3 separate regions of the Homo sapiens genome follow, and all the other regions are linked to region 2. The links come from fine-mapping of genetic effects on gene expression. A gene starts in region 2. Each other region holds a variant in brackets. All regions are shown on one strand. Distances are between the middles of the regions. Region 1 has its middle 48 kb from the start of SHISAL1. Region 2 holds the start of SHISAL1 (shisa like 1). Region 3 overlaps SHISAL1 (shisa like 1).

What was found. PIP is the estimated chance that this variant, and not a neighbour inherited with it, causes the effect.
Region 1: its variant is fine-mapped to the expression of SHISAL1 in nasal epithelium (TOPMed, PIP above 0.99).
Region 3: its variant is fine-mapped to the expression of SHISAL1 in transverse colon (GTEx, PIP above 0.99).

Annotation. Positions count from the first base shown.
Region 1 is chr22:44,357,253-44,364,750 of GRCh38, reverse strand. No RefSeq gene overlaps it. Among named protein-coding and RNA genes, the nearest start is that of SHISAL1, 48 kb to the right of the region's middle. The variant C/T (reference allele first, on the strand shown) is at 3,828.
Region 2 is chr22:44,309,310-44,316,807 of GRCh38, reverse strand. It overlaps SHISAL1 (shisa like 1), which reads left to right and starts at 3,857. Exons shown (of 5, transcript NM_001099294.2): 1 at 3,857-4,057. LOC101927499 (a long non-coding RNA gene) reads right to left here and starts at 3,797. Exons shown (of 2, transcript XR_244444.3): 1 at 3,665-3,797; 2 at 1,809-2,387.
Region 3 is chr22:44,280,397-44,287,894 of GRCh38, reverse strand. It overlaps SHISAL1 (shisa like 1), which reads left to right. Exons shown (of 5, transcript NM_001099294.2): 4 at 2,150-2,467. Among named protein-coding and RNA genes, the nearest start is that of SHISAL1, 29 kb to the left of the region's middle. RefSeq lists enhancers at 5,269-5,768, 6,680-7,180. The variant C/T (reference allele first, on the strand shown) is at 3,428.

The sequences.
Region 1 (7,498 bases), 48 kb before region 2:
CCAGCTTCCAGGATCCACCCTTTCTTCTGGGTCCAATTTGGCTGAAAGAACAAGTCCTTTTGTCCCACAGCTCCTAGAGTAGCCCAGAGTTTGTTCCCAGACCTTAGCATAAACCCCAAGATGTCCCCAGGGGACAGTTGTTAAGCACTTGGCTGGCTGGCTGGCACCCCTCATCCTTCTCCTTAAGCAGCTACCAGCTCATGTTGCACCCTTGTACCAATTACAGTCAGGCCCCTTCCTCCAGGGTGACCTCCTGGCTTGGCTTGTGGGGGATGGCTCAGTCCTACCCCCATTCGCACCCCAGCCAAGGCCCCACTGACAACCTTAGGGGCCGCTGCCTAGAGGGACTTCTGCTTGAACCCCAGCAGCCACGGGCCCTGGGCTGGCTTCTCTGGCTGACTCAGGAGGCTGTCCCCAGCGCCTCCATCCCTGTGCTCCGTCCTCCCACTGTGCTCCCCTCATTTCGGCATTTATCGCTCTGGCCTGGAGGTCACTCCTTCCATGCATGTCTTCAAAGGCAGAAACCGTGTCCTGGGCAGGCTCTGGCACAGAGTGGCAGTTCCATAAATAACCAGATGAAGCCTCTGTCCCCCGGGGATGGGGGTGTGTGACCTGGGATGTGGCAGTCCCAGGGCCTCTTCCCTGTGCCTGAGGCCCAGCCCCTCCTTCCTCAGGTCAGGGCGAGCCCCCCCAGGGGGAGGTGGGGTCAGGATGATCCCACCACTGCAATTATAAATGCGGCAGGATGGAGGATGGGGTGAGCAGGGGCTGAGGGGAGCCACTCTGATGATTGACAGGGAGTATCCAGGGTGGACAGGTTGCCCTGCCTCTGGACCTTGGTGTTCTCATCTGTGAAATGGGGGCAGTGAGCCAGGCCCGTTTAAGTCAGGGGACTCTGGGCTCCCTCACACAACTAGCGCTCCTGTGGGGACGCTTGGCCTGTCTCTTGGCCAGCCCAGAGCGGCCGTCTGGCTCAAGTGCTGACTCAAAGTGCGTCAGACAAGGGGCCAGAGCGGGATTCCCGGAATGCCCTGGAAAAGTGCTGGCTACCGTCCAGGCGCCGCCGCCAACCATGTGGAGTCTCTCTCATTCCACAGGGAACCCTCATTACTCTCCGGACTGGCGTTCCTGATCCAGCCGGGCTGGCCCTTCCAGAGGGCTGGGAGCCATCAGGGCCGGGGCTGTGGCGAGCAGAGGGATGTGCCAGGTGGTCGTCGTGGCCTCATGTCCTGGGTGTGAGCCTGGGCTGGTCTGAGAGCACTTGGGGCTCGCTCACGCAGGCTGCTGAGCTGGGGGCTCCTAAGCCAGTGACACAGGGCCATGGAGGAAGGAAGGAGCCGGGGTGAGTCACCATGCCTTGAGGGCCCCAAGTCCTAGGGTGAGGTCCTTCATCAGACACTCATAGTCAGGCACCAGGGGCTGCAGATGGCCCCATGCTCCCCGCCCTCCCTGCCCCCACAAAGCCGGCAGTCCACCCAACGAGGCCGAGTCTCTGGAATCAGGCCACATCTCTCTCAGCAACACAAGGCAGCTCCTGGTGGGGAGCGGGGGAAGCCCATTTTACAGATGAGGACACTGGGGCTTAGCAGGTCTAGGGGACTTACTGCAGACCCCGCAGCCAGGACGTAGCAGGGCCACTCGCTCATTCAGTCCTTCAACTACCGTGGGCTGAGAGGCAGGATAGCCAGCGTCTGCACACTTGGGCTAGGAGCCCAGCAGTGCCAGGGGTGACTCCTGGCACCCCCACGTTCTAGGCGTTTACCTTGGACAAGTCACAGCCCCTCTGGGCTTCAGATTCTTTATCTGTGAAATGGGTCTGACACAGTATTTGCCATGGGCATTGAGCATGGTATAAGCCAGCCCATGTCAAGGGCTCAGGGTGTGGCCAGCACACAGCCAGTGGGTGCCCATGTTTGCTGCTATGGTCAACTGGATGGAGCCTTGTGCTGGGTCCTGGGTGCTGGGAAGGGAAGTGAGGGAGACCAAATCCCTGCCTTTGAGATGTTCTTTAGTCTTGTGTGTAAAATAGGGACAAAAATATCTAGCTTCCTTAGGAAGAAAAATAAACAAGATAACTTACAGAAAGCATTTCTTGGAGCCAGGCGCTGCTTGGAGGGTCATTCAATAGGCATCGGTCACCTTCTGCATTTCCCTGGGTGTAACTTTCAGACCAACTGGTGTAAGCTACTTTGGACTCCATTGAATGGACCCACCAGGGCTCACTCAACTGCTTGTTCCTCTATGTGGTTTTTCAACCAGGATGCTACGGCCGAAAGTATCTTTGGAACTAGAGCGTCCCTAAGAACAGTCCCTGGAGGCAGAAGCCGGGCCCTGGCTATAACTAACCCCTGGCTGTAACTAACCCCTGGCTGTAACTAACCCCTGGCTATAACTAACCCCTGGCTGTAACTAACCCCTGGCTATAACTAACCCCTGGCTGTAACTAACCCCTGGCTATAACTAACCCCTGGCTATAACTAACCCCTGGCTGTAACTAACCCCTGGCTATAACTAACCCCTGGCTGTAACTAACCCCTGGCTATAACTAACCCCTGGCTATAACTAACCCCTGGCTGTAACTAACTCCTGGCTGTAACTAACCCCTGGCTATAACTAACCCCTGGCTGTGCTCTGTCAGGGACGGTGGAAGGCATTCCTTTGAGAGAAACATTTGGGATCCTCTGGGTAGAGAATCGTCTTGGACAGGCTTGGGGCTGGGAGCCCTGCCTCCTCTAGAACTGAACCCCAGTAAAACTGCCAGCCAGGGGCCCACGGCGGGTACCCTGCAGGGGGACTCCAGCCTGAGAAGGTCTGCAGTGCGGCTTGTGTTTTGCTCGAGTTGCCATATACCAAGGCAGCACCGATGGACGGGGCAGCTTCAACAACAGACAGCCATCTTCTCACCACTCAGGAGGCCAAGGTCCCAGCTGGGTGGTTCCTCCTGAGGCCTCTCTTCCTTGGTGCGTAGATGCCACCTTCTCCCAGTGTCTTTGGCCACCTGATTGTCCCTCTGTGGGTGTCTGTGTCCCAGTCTCCTCTTCTTATAAGGAAACCAGTCCTACTGGATTAGGGCCCACCCCATTGACTGCATTCTAACTTAGTCACCTCTTTAAAGGCCCTGTCTCCAGGTACAGCCACATGTGGAGGTATGGGAGTTAGGATTTCAACACATGAATTTTGGGGGCCATAACCGAGCCCATAGCATGGGTGATTCATCAGAGTTCTAGGATTTAAAGAGCCTGAGTTATTCGAGACTCCAGGATCACTACCCCAGTAACTGCTGCGACAGCACCCTTACCCCTGCCCTTCTCAGGGGAAGCCAGGTCTAGGGGAGACAGTGACTTGTCCAGGCTCTCACAGTCAGGGCTGAGGCAGAATTGAACCCAGGCCTGGTTCATTCCAGAGCCTGACGGTGCCAGTCGGGAGCCCAGTGCTGGAAGGAGCTGGGAGGAGACAGAACTTGAGACCTATTTACCTTGGCACCCGCAGTGCCCGCTTGGGCTTGGCACACAACTGCTGTTCGGAAGTTGTTGGATGAATTCGACAATGACACATTTGGGCACAGTCCTTGCCCTGGGGGCACACACACCCCCCGATGAGAAGGCAGGCTCGCCGGCACACACCCGAACACCAAGATCACCGAGGCCAGAGCCAGGCCACTTTTCCTTTCTGGTTTGGGCCCTGCCAGCCTCCACACTGGGCCAGTGTGGAGCTGACCTTTCCACGTCTGCTCTGCAAAGCCCAAGCCAATTCCTAAGCCCTCGGCTGTCCCAGAACTGAGTCATGACGGAAGCTGGTGGGATTCCTGGGGGGACAGATCTAGCCCC[C/T]ACACGTCCTTGCGTGCCTCCATCCATGCCAGCCGGCTCCAGCCCATACCACACCACCCAGAAATCCGCAGCTAGCACACGTTTCCACTGGAATGAAGCACTGCCCTGGCCCTGGCTCCGAATTCCTTGCCGCTCGCAGTCTCCAGCCGGCCGCCAGCTGTAACAGCCTGAGATGGCCTGCAGGGCAGGGAGCTGCAGTAGCAAAGAACATTTGTTTTCATCCGGTTGGAATTTTCTCTCCAAATTACACTGGCTGCCGTGGGCCTACTGTGCGAAGCTCCATTTACAGAAACCCTGGGCCACAGTCTGGGCATGACCTGCTCTCCCCAGAGGCGCCTTTCCCAGCTCGGCACCATGCTACCCAACATTCGCGTGCCCTGGGTTTCCAGGCCCCTTCCTGCCTCTGAGCCTTTGCCTACGCCGTTCTCAGTCTCAGAAATCCCTTCCCAGCCCACCCTGCTGCAGCCCCGGGTGGGGCAGGGCAAGGCCCACACTTGCGTCTCCATTGTACTCCTCACCGGCTGCCAGACTTAAGTGGGCTGCTTTGCCTCTCTGAGCCTCGCTTTCTTGGTTTCTTCATCTGTGGAATGAGAATAGGCTTGGGGGAAGCCTGTGTCCTGCAGGCAGTGAGGGGATTGGCAGGAGCCAAGGTGAGAGAGCTTTTGCAAAGCAGGGTAGCTTTTTTTTTGCGACGGAGTCTTCTTCTGTCGCCAGGCTGGGGTGCAGTGGCACGATCTCGGCTCACTGCAACCTCCTGGATTCAAGAGATTCTCCTGCCTCAGCTTCCCAAGTAGCTGGGACTACGGGCTTACACCACCATGCCCAGCTACTTTTTGTATTTTTAATAGAGATGGGGTTTCACCATGTTGGCCAGGATAGTCTCGATCTCTTGACCTTGTGATCCGCCCTCCTTGTCCCCCAAAAGTTCTGTGATTACAGGTGTGAGCCACTGTACCCGGCCAGCGGATAGCTTTGAAGGCTGCCTCAGCCAGCCTGCCCCTGGCCCTTTGCACACACGCCCATGCAGCCCCATGGGGAGGATGGCTCCTCTCCAGCTAGCCCCGCAGCATGCCATCATCGCTAACCCCATGGGCCGAGCTTGGGCCCATGAAATCCTCATGACTCTCTCTGGGGAGTAAGTGTCCTCACTACCTGTTTTCAGGATTAGGAAGCTGAGTTGAGCAAGGGCTGAGTTCACCCCACCAGGAAGCGGCTGAACTGGGACTCAGCTCTGCAGCTGAGGAGTCCCAAGCACCAACCTCACCAAGGTCTGCTGGACCGCAGGTGGGGGCCCAGGTAACACGCATGTCCCCACACGTGTGGTCTACCCCTCATCCAGGGTGCTCATCCTGGGGTCCCTCTGGGCCTAGGCACATTGCCGCCTAACCAAATCTGTGTTCTGTTAGCAAGAAACTGGGGAGATGGCTCCCATTAAGGTGCACACAGTTACAGCGGAGGACTGGTACTGTCCCTGATGGACACCCAGAGGATGCCTTCTGGACACCAAGGGGGCCTGAGCCACTGCCTCAGCAACACCCAGCACTGAGCCCTTTGCCGCCCTCACCCTGCCAACCTAATTCAGCATCTCTTTCCTCCCCTGCTGACCCCAAACTTCGACTGAGAACCTCGGGTCTGTCACACACACTGGGGTCCCCAGACCTCTGGGTCCAGTACCTGCTGGATCCTCAGCGTGCCCCCGCCACCTCCCCCTGGCTCTGGGCATTTGTCCCGGCCCCTCACCACCTCCTAGGATACCTCGAAGCCCTGCCACGTCCCTGGGGAGACTTGGACATTCACACTGTGGTGCGCAACCTCCTGCTCCTAAGTGTCTCCCCCTCCACGTGACAGAGCGCCGTCCTCGACCAAACTTTAGCCAGGTGTCTCTGAGCCCTCTTCTGGCACAGGCCTTGACCTTGGCTGGCAAAGAATCCCGCTAAGTCAGTTCAGGGAGAGAATCCCCCACCCTTGATCTCAGATCAAGTTCCTCTCTCCCACTCTTGATCGTTAAGTCCTTGTCCCTTTAGCAAGAATCCCACCGGGCCTGGGTAGCAGGAAGTCCTCTACCCTTGATGTCAAATCTAGTCCTTCTGAGTAATTTTCCATCCACTGCCCCTCACTCTGCTCCTTGGCCATAAATTTCCAGCTGTCCTTCCTGTCTTCAAGGTTGAGTTCAAACTCTGTTCGCTGTTACAATCATCTTTGGTAAAGTCTTCTTTGCCATTTTTAAACACGGGTCAGGTGCAATTTTTCTCTTTAACACATACCCCTTAGCCCTCCACCAGCTTAACCATCCCCCCGAAACTGCTCAGCCCTGAAATCTCAGTCCATGTCCTGGTTTAGAGCAAGCTTGACATTCCAAGTGATAATTTCACCTCCCAAGGGGGCTCTCTCAGCTCCCTGCCTCTTCGTTTCTTATTCGTAAAATAGGTACAGAGGATTGAAAGGATATCAGGCGCCGCACAGAGCCTGGCTCAGAACAGGCACACGGCAAAAGTGTGTTTCTCTCTCCTTCTTTGGCTCTTGTTTACAAGAGGCCTTAAACCTGCCAGCAAAGAAGGATTGCACGTTGCTGGGATATTCTGTCTTCCAACGGGGAAAACAAAATCCCAGGTGGTGAGCGAGCGGCAACTCCCAGAAACGGTGACATCTGCCCAGCTCCAGCTTCCCCATTTATCCCTCGAGTTCAGTGCTCAAAAGGACAGGCAGGTGGCCAACCGCAGAGACTAAATTGAATGAAAAGAACCAGGATGCCATTGGATGGTCCAGGCTCGGCCGCGGCAGCGTGTGGGTCGTCAGCGAGACTGGCTCAGCGTTCTGTTTTCTCTCCAACTGGAACAGCGGGGCAGGGAGCCGTGAAATGTTTCAGATGTTTGTTGGAGTTTCTTTTCTTATCCTCACGCATGTAGCTTTGGGAGCTGGCTGGAATGTAAGCATGACCCGCCTGACTCCCTTGCAGGGGAACCAGTATCTTTACTTCAGCTGGCTTTGACAGCACAGTCTGGGGACCCTGAGGCTCAACTGATGTGACAACTCTGAGTCTCTCCTGGGGGCAGGCCTTGGTGGCCTGTGAACTCTTGCTCCTGGTTTTTCATTTCAGGAGGCTCAGAGAAGGCAAGGGGCTGGCCCGAGGTCACACAGCAAATAAGCTGGGAGCCCAGAAGCTTGGATTCTCTTCCTTTTATGTTTATTTCAAAAGCCACGTGCTCCAAGAAGCCTTCCTGCACATGCCACCTTATTCCAGGCTGGGCCAGGTGCCCTCTGGACCCCCGAAGTCCCCGAGTTCAGAGCCCTGATCGTGCAGCATTGCAATTGCTTTTAATGTAGCTGCGTCCTTGGGGCAGACATGGTATTGTGTGGGCACAGAGGCAGCAACAAGTGGTGAATGAGTGAATGTCTGCACAATGCATGCAGATCTTTCCCTTATCCTCAAGGTGGCCTCCTCCCCTGCACATAGTGGTGAGCAGAGCCCCTAACCACGAGGCTCTTTTATCTCCAGGATGGCCAGCTCAGACCTGGAAACTGACAGCTAATTAAAATAACACGATTCATAAAAACAACAGTAAAAATAACTGTCACATTACTGCCGCCAGCAATTACTGAGCATCGCTACAAACCAGGTGCATTTTCTGTCATATTTTATTGAAGGAGCGTGACAGCCGTAGGAGGTGGGT
Region 2 (7,498 bases):
CTGCCACATGCTCCAGCCCAGGTCTTCTCAGACTTGCAGGTGCTGGGGAATGGGTTAGCGCGCAGCCTCTGATTCAGCCGGAAGGGTGGCGCGAGAGCCTGCATTTCCAACAGCTCCCGGGAGATGCCAGGGTTGCTGGTTTGTGGGCTGTGCTTGGGGTAGCAATGATCTCACCCAGAAGTTTGCAAACTGGGGCTGCCTGTTTGTGTGAATAAAGTTTTATTGGAACACACCATCACTCATTCATGTAGGATTCTCTACAGCTCTTTTTTGTCTATAACTGCAGAGTGGACAAAGACTGGGTGGCTTGCAAAGCTGGCCCAGCAGCTCTTCCTTGAGTGGGCATCAGAACACCCTGGAAAGCTGGGAGAGATGCAAATCCTTTGCCCCCCCACCCCCCACCCTGGTTCTGATCCAACAGGTCTGTGCAGCCCTGGTGCAGCCACTTCCGGGGATCTCTCTGTTCATCCTGGCCTACCCTGGGTACCATTCCCATTAGATAGCTGGGGAAACTGAGGCTCAGAGTGGTCACTCACTTGTCCGAGGTCCCAAGCTAGTAAGATCTGGCCGATTCCCACCACATCCTGCATCCTTGACCCAGGTCCCTCTCCCCAGGGTGCACCACGTCCCAACTGGGTTCCCTGGCTTGGTCTGCTCCAAATCTGGATTCCACGTGGGGGCCTGCTATTTGTAACCTTGGGCAAGTCACAGAATGACATGTCCTGTTGCAGGAGCATGATGTGTGGGAGACCAGGTCTGTCACGGGCACTGCAGAGAGCACTTGGCCCCTGGGGGGTTATCATTGCCCTGCTCCACATCGATATGGGCGGTTTACACTGTGCAATGCCTCTCCCCTCCCTGCCCCGGACTGTGAATCCTTTGAGGGCCAGGATGGAGACCCATCCTGCCATTGCGGAATCACCTGAGGCCGGGGAACTGCTGCCTGTGAGCCTATGAAGGAGGCAGCAACTCCCCAGCAGTGGCTCAGGCAGGGCCCTGCGTGTTCTTCATCTCAGTCATCCTCCCCTTGACCTGGAGGGGCCAGGATGGAGGCATGGCACCATCCACAAAGGAAGAAACCAAGCCTCCTCGAGGCAGGTGACCCGCCAGGCAGGTAACAACAGCGTAAGAAGCAGCATTGGGATTCTGTGGCCCAGGTGACATGGGGCCACCAGCTCAGTTCCAAACATGGAAATATAGGAGGATGTTATATGGCCTGGTGTCCTCAGTTTATAGATGGGGAAACTGAGGCACAGAGAGTTTATAACTGGGAGGGTCTCAAAGGGACGAGGTGTATGTGGGCTCAGTAGGAGGAGGCTGGGAATTCACACCGATTCCCTACTGGAATTGGACAGTTCCGGCACCACACCCAGCAGCCTGGGACTGTGAACCGGAAAAAAACGCTCCTTTCTCAGGGACCCCCAGCCAGGCCAAAGCAGCTTCTGCAGTCCCCACCCAGGCCCCTGTGTGGGTCTCAGCTGCCCAGAGGGGTGGGCCTGTGTGCAATGGATGGGGGCTGGGGGGTACTGTAATCATTATTTTTCTTTACATATATTTTGAACCTTGATTTTCTATTCTATTTTCCAGACTCCAGGCCATGGAGTCAGGCCCATGTCTCTGCCTGCTTCCTGGTATTCGCCCTCGGCAGTCCTTGCCAAGACTTCTTTATTTACTTGTTTGTTTGTTAATAATATAAGAAACATCCTTGACCCATCCCTCAGCCTGAGAGCAGGAACGTCAGCCTGTGCGCTCCCAAGCAGGGCCCACTTCACCCCACGTCCCGCTGTATGCCTTGCTATAGCCAGATGCACTCTCAAAAAGAACATTTTATTTACAGTTCTTTTTAGCCTTCTAGAAAGCGTACTGTGCTGAACTTCATCTTTGGAGACTTTACTTTCTCTCTAGCCTCATAGCGCTGAGATGCCCCGTAATGTTCTGTGCGGCTGCAGTGCATTTGGGTAGCTGAAGAGTGTTCCGGTGTTTGGCCATAACACCATGCATTTTCCTATTCATCCACTGGGCCGTCTCCAGGGCTGTCTCCAGGTTTTTCCATAGCGCCGCTGTGAGCTTTCTAGAGCCTGGTCCCCTCGGCCGAGAGGGGATGTTGGTGCTTTTCCTCCCCCACAGTTGCTGAGGCAAAGACCCACTGTGCAAGAGGATGTGGTCACAGTGGCCTCCCTGAGGTGGGGTCACCTTCCCTCCAGGCAGCCCTCACCCCGGTCTGCCAGGCAGGTTGGTCTTTGTTGTGCTTCCAACCTCTGTCAAAGGTGAACTTTTAAAATTCCTGCCTCGTAGGGTGGATCGCAAGGAGTAAATGTCATTGGCGGACCCATACTTTTCTATGTCATAGGTGTTCCAGATCTGGTGCACAGGAGGTCTGCTTTGAACTATAACAAAATCCACAGGGCAGTCCAGGCTCAGAGAGACAGAGAAACATGCCCAGGATCACACAGCTGAGAAGCGGCAAGGGACTTGAACCCGTGTTCAAACCCCAAGCTCAGAGCCCTTTTGTTTCTCTGCTGCTATGCTGAGCCCCAGACAAGAGGCAGGAGGAACTTTGTGTGCCTTGTTCCCTCTGCCAGGAACACTCCCCCACCCCCACCCCCGCCCCACCGCCCGACTCATCCTTCAGGTGTCCACACCAGACCCCCTGGTCTGAGTCCCCAGCCAGGCGACCCAGGACGAGTTACTGAAACTCTGTACCTCAGTTTCCGCATCTGTAAATTGGGGATAATCACAGCCCCTCCTAATCATGAAGATTAAATAAATACCACCCCCACTCCCGGCCCCTACCCCGTCAGGCTGCATCAGGCACTCTGGGCGCCCATAGCCCCCTGGTTTCCCATCGTGGCACCCATCGCTCTGGGCTGCCATTGTTGGGACCGTGGTTAGATGAGGGGCACCCAGACCAGTCTGAACTCGCTCTCTGTCCACCGAAAGGAATGGAAAAAGGAGGTTTATTTCTGGCCTGGCTCAGGATGGGCAGGCTTCCAGGGATGGGTGGGAGGCAGAGGAGGGCTGGCCTCCTTTATGGCTGCGTTTAAATGCCACCCAGAAGCCAGCCAAGGGCGCCGCCAAGGTACCACGATGCACGAAGGCCCAGGGGTGGGAGACGGCCATGGGCTGGGGGGGTGCCTGGCACCCAGGAAGTGTGGCTGCAGAGGCCAGCCAGGCCCCTGGGCTGTGTCCAGACAGTCATGGAAGCCACTGATGTGTTTCGAACAGTGGCAGGTGTGGGCATCCCCCGCCCTGTTCCTGCCCCATCCCCACCCCATTCCTACTGGCAGGGAGGACCCTCTGCTGCTGGGTGGGGACAGGCCAGGGGTAGGGGGGCAACAGCAGGAAGATCAGCCCAGCTTGGAGTCAGGCAGGTGCCACACACCCTCTGTGGGCTCTCGGGTCCCAGCTACCCTTCCTCCCCGGGCTGGTGTGGGGACCGTTTGTTTTACCCACACCCCTCCCCGGGCCATGCTGGCCAGAGGGGCTTGTGCAGTGGTGCCACTGACCTCCATTGCCCAACAGAGACTGAGGGCCACGGGAGGGAACCCACATGTATTGTGCCAAGCATCTGCTGAGGTGCGGACCTGGAGCCCGGTGCCCTGGGTCTAAGCCCCTGCTGCTTCTAGCTGTGGGATCTCACAGGGAGTGTCTCTAGTTTGCTCACCTGTAAAATGGGGCTCTTGCTGGTGCTCTGAGGATGCACAAGGCTGTAAGACCAGAGGCTGGAGTGCGTGGGGACTGCGGGAGCAGCCGCTGCCATCCTGGGCCTGGGAGGTGGCGGCCCTAGGCCCAGGCGGGAGCTGGACTCCTGCAGGGCTGACTCAGCGCCCTAGCCCCACTCCCCGCCCTGAGGAGCACACTGAATTCTTGTCAGCACACAGAGGCCAGCCTGCGCTGGAAAACACTCTTTTGCCTATACAAGGCTCGACCAAGTTGCTCTCCTTTTATTGGGGTTTAAGGTTGGTGGCAACCAGGAGCCGGGGAAGAGGCCAGCAGCTGCAGGGAGACCGCAGCCAGCGGAGGGGGCTTCTGATCCCTCAGTCACAGGGCTCGGCAGGTAAGGAGCAGCCTGTGGAGGTTTCCAGGTCCTCACTGTGCAGGGGCACCTCTGTTCCTTCACGCTGACCCTGGGGTCCCTGCCCTGGCTAAGCACTGGGTCTAAGGGAGAAGCCAGGCAAGGCTGCTAAGTGACTCCTAGTCACAGAAGAATGGGAGGGGCCGGGGTGACGGCTATGCCAGTGGGGCAAGATGGGGAGCAGGCTCTGATCTAGAGGGGTGGGAGCCCTGTGGGGGTGCACAGATGCTGGTGCTACTACCTACCTGCTGTGTGACCTTGAGCAAGTTGCTGACCGTCTCTGTGCCTCAGTGTCCTTGTGTCAAGAGCCTTGCATAGAGAGGGGTTGGAGAGAAGGCCAAAGGCTCGGGGGAGGGTCCGGCATGGCCTAGGGAGTGCTCTCAGGATGCCCTAGTCATGGCCTGGAGGGCATTTGGTTGGCTTCACGGGGGTGAGGTGGGTCTGTTCGACCCACTTCAGAGTCTGCAGTCCCAGTCCAGCATCACACCGGTACGAAATAAGTGAATAGATGAATGAATGAATGAATGAACGAACAAATGAATGCATTGGCCCCTCCGAATACGCCTTCAAGGCAGGTTTGTTGTCCCCATTTACAGATTGGGAAACTGAGGCTTAGGGCTTTGGCTTCTCTTCACTCCAGTGAGGAAGGGGTTCTGGGGACCAGGGAGGCTGAGGGAGCTGAAGAGAAACCCAGAGCCACCCCCACCCCGAGGCGAGCGCCATGCCTGTCTTTCCTCTTCCTGCCCTGACACTTTAAGTGATTCATTCTTCATGTGATATTTTTGTGTTTCTCCAGTGGGAAAAAAATGCCTCTGGGATTTCCAGGGGTTGTTTTATCTCCATGGTGCAACCAAATAACTCAGGAGGACAGAGAGAAACAAAGGGTTGTTGAGCTGAAGAAGGCCCATGATTGTCTCGGCCAAGCTCTCCCTTTAATAGGGGAGGAAACTGAGTCTGGCCTGAGCCCCTCGCCCTGTGACCCAGTGTGGCCCCCTGGAGGACAGTGGGGCATCTAGGGCCTTCAGCAGGGTTGGGGTTTCCAGCTAAGCCCCTTTCAGCTGTGTGTTCTCGCTCAAGTCCCCCTTTCCCCAGGCCTCAGCTTCCTCATCTGTAAAATGGGATCACAGTGGTGCCTACTTCCAACATTCGAGACAGTAGCACATGCAGAGAACTTTGATGGGTGCAGAACTGGCCCAGGCCAGGGGCTCAAAAGGGGGAACCATTGAAACAGCTGAGTTTGTAACTTGGACTCAGAGCCCAGCTGGCTGGGGCATGGTGGATTCAGCAGGGAAAGGTGTCAGTGAGGGACAAGAGCCTTATTAGGGATACACTGGAATGGTTATCCACTGAGGGAGGGATCTGGGGAGATAGGAGAGGTTTCCACGTTGGAGGTCACCTGCGTGCCTTCCCAATTCCAGCACCCAGGCCAGCACCCTTCGTGGCAGTGTGCTTCTCCTCGTGGCCCTGACCCTGAGAGCAGCCCCATGGAGCAAGTGGTATGCCCGCCTGGTAGGGAGACAGTGAGGGCCCAGGGGGTGTGAGCCGGCCCACCTCAGCTCCCCTGGACTTAGGGGGACCTGTCCCACTGGAGCCCTGGAGTTGGGTTTCTAGGCTAAAATAAGGGACTTCCACCCAGGGCTGATGGCCCAAGGTCACTCCCGGTGGTGGCCGTAAAAGTTGAGGCCATGTCTCAGTTGAAGGAGATCTCCTGCCTGGATCTCTGCTGTTCCCATCTGGAAGTTTGCTCTTTGCAATAAAACAAACCAGGCCAACGAGTGCTAATGGAGTTCCTACTCTATGGCCGGCAGACATTTATTCAGCACCTACTGTGTGCAAAGCATGGTGGGGCGATGCAGAGGCACAAAATTTCCCACCCTTGAAGAGCTTGTACTAGGCAGGGAAGCAGTAAACCAACAGGTAAGGCAGAGGGAAATCCGTGCCAACTAAAGGAACAAGCAAAGCACGGAAAGATGAACTGGGGAAATCAGACGTAGACATGGAGTTCAAACACAATTTCATTTGCCAAGGGGCACACAGGACCCTCTCTGGTACCTAAACCATCAGCTTTGGGAACAGTAGAGTAGGCAACATCGGATAAGAACGGTTTATGGATCAGCTGCTAATGTTCTGGGTGCCCTGCTAGCTTCTGGTCCTTTCTATGTTTGGTATACCTGCAAGGTGTGGGGCACGGCTCCCGTTTCACAGATGAGGAAGCTGAAGCCCGTGAAGTAACTTGCCCTAGATCACCCAGCTAGTTAGTGATAAAGCTCTGATCCAAGGCCAAGGAGACTCGCTGCAAAGCCTATGTGGTCGCCCCCAGCACCCTGTCTGGAGTCGAGCAAACCTGGGTTCAGATTGCAAACCTTCCACCCTCCAGCTCTGGGCAATCACTTAGTTTCTCTGAGCTGTGGTTTATTTATCTCAGCAATGGAGATGATCATTGCTTATGTTCATTCAACCAATTAACACATGTTTATAAAGTGCCTACTACGTGTCAGGCCTGTGCTGCCCATAGAGATGAGCAAAAACGAAATGGTCTCAGCAGGGCTGGGTTCGGGGATGTGACCGCTGCAGGGCTAGGCATCAGGTCAGCAGGGCTCAGGTCACATTGGCCGTTACTAGGGTGTGAGGTGCTGGCCCTTCTCACTCACTGTCAGCCGTGGAGCCCGGCACCCCAGCTGCAGGCGAACGGGCTGCTTCTCTGTCCTTCTCCAGCCATACACTCTGGCTGCCTCGGTCCTGGCCAGCACAGCGAGGAAAGATGTCCTAGTTCTCTCCTGCCGCTTCCCCCTGCAAGCATGAAGGGGTCACAAAGACATGCTTTGATCTCACTTCATATGCAGGCGTGGAGCCTCGAGAAGTGTTTATTCCTGGACTTCACGTTTCAGAGTGAGATTTCATAACCTCTAAGTGGATGTCCTGAAAACAAAAGTTCACAAACTCAGGATTAGGTCTGCACTGCCGAGGAAAGGCCCTGGAGACTGGGAAACTTGTGGAGGTTAAACATCCCTGATGATACATATGTGCACACGTGTGTACATGTGTGTGCTGTGTGGAGACAGGCATGCACACAAGTGCTGCCTGCAGGGGTAAACACTCTTATGAGTCGTGGAGACAGGGCACAGGAGCAGACCCCGGGGTTTGAGTCCCCTCTCCGAGCCCCACATTCTCCATCTGTGTAACAGAGAGACTGAGGGTGCAGCATAGGGCTGGGTGGGAAGGGAACGGGTGAGGAATGGGGAGCATTGGGCACCGTGCTCTGCCCTGGGCTCGGGTGATCTGCAGCTGCTAGCCCGTCTCCTCGTCTGTACTTCCTGCCCTTCTGCTGGGCCGCTGCCTACCCGCAGGACTGTTGGTGGGGCTCCAGAGAGCCCTGCCCTGTTGAATTACTAATCCGTGCTAATGCTACCACTGCTAATCATC
Region 3 (7,498 bases), 29 kb after region 2:
GAAAAACCTGGCACTTAGAGCAATTCCGTGGGGGCTGCAGCAGGGAGGGTGCTGGGGAAAGCAGGAGGGCCTGGGAACTGGAGCCAGGCCTGACTCCTCGGTCTACATGGACATCTACCCCGGGGACACCTGCCCCAGCATACTGGATGGGGCTGCAGGCCTCTTTTTCCTGGAATTCCTGGAAGGAATTCCATATCCAGATGCCTCCAGGAAAAGCTAGCCTCTCTTTAACAGTCTCTTTTTAACATAAGGCCGCTGGGGCCTGGCTGTCAGTCATTTACACCTTAGCATGAGCGAGCCCATCAGTCTGATGCAGGCTTCATGGTGGTGGGGGCTGGGAGGTGGGGGCAAGGAGGCAGCAAGGACGCACAGTGACCGGGAGCTGTGGGATTACAGCTACAAAGCCTAAGCACTGGCCTACAGCTGCTCATGGGATGTGCTCAGGACATGCAGAGACCTCCCAGCCAGGAGCTCCCAGGCACCCGAGCAGCATCTTCAGGCCAAGAACTTGGCCAAGTGAGAGGAGGGAAGGCATTCTAGGCAGAGAGCGAAAGCGAGCTTCCCCGGCCCTGGGCTCAGCCCTGGTCAGGGCCAGAGGAGCCCAAGGGAAGCAGCCCCCATCTTCCTACAGAGGCCACTGCTGGCGCCAGGGCTGACCTAAGCCTGGGAAGATCTGGAGCCTGGAAGTCGAGACTGGGAGAGGCCTCATGCTCATCTCCTCCAGGCCCAGAGACAGGCAAGGGTTTTCCCAGGCCACACAGCAAACCAGGCAGAGGAAGAATTAGAACCAGGTCTCCGGGTTCCGGGCTGGCCCCTTCCCCCCAGCCTCAAACAGGGTCTTAAAGGATCTGCTGCCCGCGAGACCTCCGTCTGGGCGAGAGCGAGGTGAGTCTCTCCCTGGGGATGTGCAGCGGTGGCGTGTACAGGCCGGACACTGGCTCCATTCACGCCTCCTCGACACCAGAAGCGCACACCCACCCAAACACATGCCTGCAGCAGGGAGCAGACGGAGGCGGCGCCGGAGTGATTAACAGATCGGTGGCTTCAGGCAGCCACAGCCCCTGGCACGCACTGTTAGGGCTCGGCAGCTCCAGCTGCTGTGGCAAGCCCTGGACACCATCCACTCTGGGCACAGGTCGGGGAGACTTGGACCCTGGCCCTGGGGAAGGGTGTGGGAGACAGATGTGGCTCTGGGTGACAGGGGCTGGGTTTGAGGGAAACTCAGGGCTGTGGGCCAGAAGACAGGCTTGACCCAGCTGCGTAGGAGGGTCAGGGTGTCCGGAAGACTTCCTGGAGGAAGTGATCTTCGACAAAGGGCCGGTGGGAGGTAGGCAGGGGAGGAAGGGGGCAGGGAAAGAAGGCACGGCCTGTGCAAAGGCCGGGTGCTGGAGCGCAGACCCTGTCTGCAGTGGAGTCGGCTGACACCGGGAGAGCCAGGCTTCACAGCGGGCTTCCAAACCCTCCCGCAACTTTGGCCACCTCTGCCTGAGGAAGGCAGAGCAGCCCTCGGTGGGGAAATGTTGGGCAAATGAATAACAGAAGTGAGGTCATGGGGCCCGGACAGCCCCAGCCATGCACAGCCTGGTCGTGTTGAGTGAAGGGGACCCCTGGGGGAGGCTGAGAGAGGGTCTAGAGGGCAGAACCTGATGCCTCTGCTCTTGGTCCAGCAGGATGGGGAGGACCTCCGTCCTCACAGCAGGGGTGAGGCAGTGAGAGCATCCCGGGTGCCAGGAACAATGTAGGCAAAGGTGGGGCAGGGGCACCTGCAGGAAGGAGGGAGAGGGCAGACCAAAACAGCACCAGGTAAAGGAAGAGGCTGCCATGTCCTGGGAGCCCCAGATGCCAGCTCAGAATTCCCCCCAAAGTGTCTGACTCTGTGGGACCCTCAGGGATCCCAGCCCAAGGACTCAGGGTCCTGGAGGATGCCCAGGTGGGGACCAGGCCCGGGCAGTGGATTCCAGGGAAGGAGGCGAACAGGCAGGCAGAGGAGAGGGAGCCAAGGCCCCGCCCTCCAGAGGGGCTCAGTACCCTCCTCCCGGGGACCCCAACATAGCCCCAGGACACATTCTCTAATCAGCCCCACTGATGAAGCCGGCCTGAGCTGGACTGCTCCCCTCTGCTTGCTCACTCCCTCTCTGTTTGTTCGCAGCAATTACACCGCCTTGTTGGGAGTGTGGATCTATGGATTTTTCGTGTTGATGCTGCTGGTTCTGGACCTTTTGTATTACTCGGCAATGAACTACGACATCTGCAAGGTCTACCTGGCACGGTGGGGCATCCAAGGACGATGGATGAAACAGGACCCCCGGCGGTGGGGGAACCCCGCTCGGGCCCCTCGGCCGGGTCAGCGGGCCCCACAGCCGCAGCCTCCCCCAGGCCCGCTGCCACAAGCCCCACAGGCCGTGCACACATTGCGGGGAGATGCTCACAGCCCACCGCTGATGACCTTCCAGAGTTCGTCTGCCTGGTGAGTGGCTACAATTGAGACCCAGAATGATTTGGGTCATTGTCTTTGGAGAGCTTGGAGAATACGCCATCACTCTCGCCATAGTGTTTGGCTCATTGGTTGCCTGATTGTTTGCTTATCTTGTTGTTTGCCAAGAAAAATTTCAAACTGTTATGGGTAGCCTACAACACATGCCTAGACAGGAAAGTCAAAATGAGAGGTGGAAACAGAGCTTAGAAGCAAAGCTTGCAAGCTCATTGCGCTTAGAGCCCAGTGTGAGAGAGGTAACCACTAAACATTTAGTGGAGTTTTGGGTTACCTAGCTGCCAAGGCAAAGGGGAAAACCGGATGGCTTTTTGAGTTGTAAATCTGGCCAAAGGAAGCAAATCAGTCTGTCCAGCCAGATTTTTCAGCATGAGGTTAGAAAATACAAATGTTACTTAGTTCCTTATGTGTACATGCCTTGTATGGCATGAGGGGTACTAGTTCTGACTCAGGCAGGCTGTGAAGGAAGGAAGGAAGGAAGGAAGGAAGGAAGGAAGGAAGGAAGGCAGGAAGGCAGAGAGGTGGCATCTCAAGGGTTGGCCTTGTGGGGTGGCTGCCCCAGGGTTATGTTCAGATCTGAGCTTGTCTACTGCAATTCCCATTTCCGCCCAGTTCCAGTATGGTGGGGATGGGCCTGACCTAATCCCAGGCGGCCCTGGGTAGTGCAGCATCTAGAGTTGGAAGGGGAGAGGCAGGGTCTGTGCGTTTGGAGCAGGAACTCCCTGGGAGGCTGGCTAGCACCAAGGACAGGAGCCAGACTGAGGGTCGATTCCCAGGTCAAGGGCTAGAGTGAGAGGTTCGGATGCTCTGTGGGGGCTGAGCTGCAGCCATGGGCACACAGGGCTCAGGGCACGTCATCCAGGGACATCATGATACCAAGCCCAGGCTGCAAGACCCATCCCAGAGCCCCCTTGCTGGAGGGGTGCAGGAGTTTGC[C/T]GCACAGTGACCCCTGGGTTCATGTGCAGGAGCTTTGCAGGTAACCTAACCTGGGTCTGAGTCCCGGCTCTGCCATTTACCTGCTCCTTGACTTCGGGCATGAGATTTCACCCCTCTTAACCTTCCGATCCTCGTGAAGGAGGAGTGGGTAAGACTGCCCCCTCCCAAGGATTAACTGTGCACCTACCTGGCACATAGTAGGTCCTCAGTTAATCCTTGCTGCCTCCTCTTTGGAGGCAGCAATGACGTGAGTTAGTGATCGTTCACATAGCTAGCAGGTAGTGACCTTTTCAATTATTATTAAATAATTAATAAGATGCATAAATCAGCTTGTGCTTATCGATTGAATAATGACACCATCCATCACACAGGAGACAAAGACACAGCCCTGTGTGGCTCGGTTTGACAAATGCTGGCAGAGTGGGTCCTTGGGCAGGGGTTTGTGCCAGGCTCTGGGGGATGTGGAGGTGATGGGTAGAGAAGAAGCCAGCCTCCACCCTTGAGCAGTGGGGACTCCAGAGAGCTACAGACAATAAAATGTCTGTTGGCAGGACCCAAGAGTGGGGTGTTCTGAAATGTGGATCCTTTGCAACAGACACACCTAGAGGGTTTGTCAAACTAAAGACCCAGAGCCTACTGACCAGGCATCTCTGAGGGTGATGCTCATAGGCACTACAGCTCAGGAGGCACTGGAAAACGTCTATAAGAGCCAAGCTTTTTGATAGCTGAGAATCTTCCGTTTAAAACGGTGGTCCTCCCCCACTCCCGCACCTTTTGCATGCACATACATTTGGAATAAATAGCTCACACCTCGCCGAACACTTGCCAAGGGGATGGAGGATGTCGTGAGCACCCTGCACTCAGCACCTGGGTGCTGTTTTCCTGCCCCGGCCTCAAGGTCTTCCATTTCCTACGTCACTGTGCTTGCTGCTAACAGCTCCCCGATCTCATCCTGCCCAGAACGTTTTTGCCTGTCTCAGCAGCAGTTCCCACCCTACCCCTGTTCCATATTGCTTTTCCCCAACAAGCACACATTGTGCACCTGCTGTGTGCCAGGCACTGTGCTATGCCATCAGGATGCAGAGAGCTTGCCAAGCCTGCAGGGATTGTGCACGGAGCCTGAGTGGGCAGCTGAGCTCCAGGTCCAGGTGGGACACTTTTCCTTTTGGAGCTCAGAGGCTCTTCGTCTTTCCTGACCGTCCTGAGTGCAGGCTCAGGAAGGTGTTCCCATCACCCTGTGAGCGTGAAAAAAGGTTGTCAGAACCCACAAAGGTGTGGTGCAGGATAAGGGAATAGCCAGTCCCTGGCTGGATTCACGGGCACCGTCCCACTCCCGCTGTGCTCTTTGACACGCAGCGTGACTCTGGGTGAGGAGCTTCCTTTTTGGGCTTCAGTTTTGCCAGTTGAGGAACCAACGTGAGAGGGGATTTCATTTGGAGATCAGGGAGGAGCCTCCTTTCCTGCCACTCCAAGGTCCTCCCAGCTGTGTGACCCAGGACATCTCCAGCATTATAGCTCTGACTGTAACCCGACTAGGTCCCTGGTCCCCGGGTGGCCCAGCCTCCATGTGGTGTCCCAGTCAATGAAACACCACTTGGCACCCAAACAGCCATTACAAACGCCCTCTGCGGCCCTCCTCGGGCACACTGGAGAATGTCCAGGCAAGGAGTGTGGACCAGGGAGGTTCTTGAACACTCATCAGCCCCTGGAAAGGCTTCTGTTCCCCTCACAGCCCTCTCAGGAGCCTCCTGCTGAGTGCCGCTGCTCTTCAAAATCTCTCTTCACTTCTGCTTTCACCTCCAGAAGTCTCCTATGAGCCCAGCCTCTGTGGCTTCTCTGCCTTTCTCCCCTGCCCACCCCAGCTCTTTCTCCTGCGAATGAATCCAGCTTCTCCAGCTCCTCAGGGCTCCCTGTGCAGGGGCAGCAGGAGGAAGACAGCTGCAGACACACCCACATCCCCTGAGCTCCTGGAGTCTCCTAATGAGGCCAGCCACTTCTGGGGAGGCTTAGTGGGACCCAAGCAGTGGGTCAAGGACCACCGCAGGGGGGACAGAGACAGGAGGCCAAGGCACTGCCAGGACAGGGCAGTCAGGTGATGCCAGGGGAGGTGGAGGCAAGGGGCAGCTGTGCTGGGGGCCAGGACTGCCTCAGTGCCCAGGAGTTCCCTGCCCCTGGCTCCCACCCTGGCTGCTGCAGCGGGAGGGCCCACGGTGGGCGGGGAGCAGATCCCAGAGCTGGGGCAGAGGAGTAAGCTGGGCGACTGCTGGGCCCAGCCTCAAGGCCTTCGGCTCCCCAGCGGAGGCCGGCACAGCCTCCCCTCTCAGAAACCCCTTGGGTTTGGTGGGTGAGGGCCCCGAGGCAGCCCCCAGGCCACCGCTGAACAGCAGTATTGAAGGCCCTGGCGGCAGTGGCTCAGCCCCACACAGCCCCCGCCTCTTGGTCCCCACAGACACGCACTCCATCAATCATAAGAAATGTGATTTTCCTGCCAGCTGGCTGGGCAAAATCCAAGTGCTGCCGAATCGCGTGGCCAGGCAGGTGGGGCGTTGTGCCGTCCCCCGCCCGTGGGATTTATAACTGAGTTAGGAGCCAGCAGGGGCGTCAGGAGTGGTGCAATGGTCACAATGCTCAGCTGCCTTCGTTTAATTTCACGGAGAAGCGGGGCTTTCCCTCCGCTTAGTAGCTACTGAACTCAGACTGTGAAGTTTCTTGCTCAGATTCTCTGGACTGTGTCTTCTCTGGTGACCCCAAGACTCCACCCGTCATTTCCTCCTGAAAGTAGTCAGGACAACCCCTGAGGGCCCAGAGCCCAGTGTGACCCAGCAGGCACCCCAGGGACACCGCACCTGCGACAAAGTGCCTTCGTCACCTAACGGTGTCTCCTTCGCACTGTGGAGGTCCTGGGTTTTCCTCCCAGGCGTAGAGAGCCTCTCTAAGCACCTTGGCCCTCCTTGCACAGTTGCACACTCAGTTCACAGCGCGGCAGGAGGCAGCACTACCCCCTACACACACAGACACAAACACACACACATACACACTCACACACACACACTTCCACCAGTATTCAGCCCAGCCAGGCCCTCCCACCAATCCCCGACCTGACCTCACTATCTGGACCTCCGTCCTCCTGCTGGACTCCCTACCCTTGTCAGTTGTGCAGTGGTGTGCAGCTCCCCCGACCAGAACCTCAGCCCGACTCAGGGCCCCAGCACATAGTAGCTGCTCAGCAAATCCCGTGTAAGGGATGCAGCAGGAGCATCAGCACTAGGGGTCTGGGACAGGGTCTGGGCTGAGCCTTCTCTCCCCTCAGGTGGCGGGCCCTGGTCCCCTCACCCTGACAGCCCAGGTCTCACCTCTGTACAGCCAGGGCCCACCTCAGGCTAAAGGAGCAAGCAGTGGAGGGGGCACCGAGGGAAGCTGCTGTGCCCCCAGGGTTAAGCCAGGCCCGAGGATGTTGCCACGTTCCTGCCACATGCTGTGCTGTCATCATCACTGAGGCTGTGGCCTGGGTCCTGGGAGGTGCCGCTCTCATGGTTGTGATGGTCATTATTGTTGCTGTCTCAAATCCGGGGCACAGGCAGTGGCTCCCAGTCAGACACACCCACCTGGCCCCGCCAGTGCCGCACAACCTGCCTGCCCCGAGCCTCCCCTGCCTGAGCCTCAGTGTCCCTATCTGTAAACTGGGCAGGGCTGGCCTCTCAGTGCAGTTGTGAGGACCTGATGGGGGCTGACATCCTCCTGGGACACCCAGCTCCACTCCCCATTGTCCCCACCTCCCTCCCTCCCCCATGCATCCACATTCCCATCTCTGAGAGAGGGCCTCGGCTGCCTCCTAGCCTGCTCCCTAGCCCTTGGTGGCCTGACTCTGCCTCCCTACCTGAGCGGCCCCCTCCTGAAGCTTCAGGCTGCTGTTCAACACCCTGTAAGACCTGCAGGGCCCAGCAGAGAGTGCTGGGAACCACGGTTAGTGCTTGACTTTAGACACTGCCCCCCTTGGTATTTCCATGGACTCTTGTCACTCCCACGCTGGGGACTGGGCTCAGCAGGACACCTCATCACCTTGTGTGGATG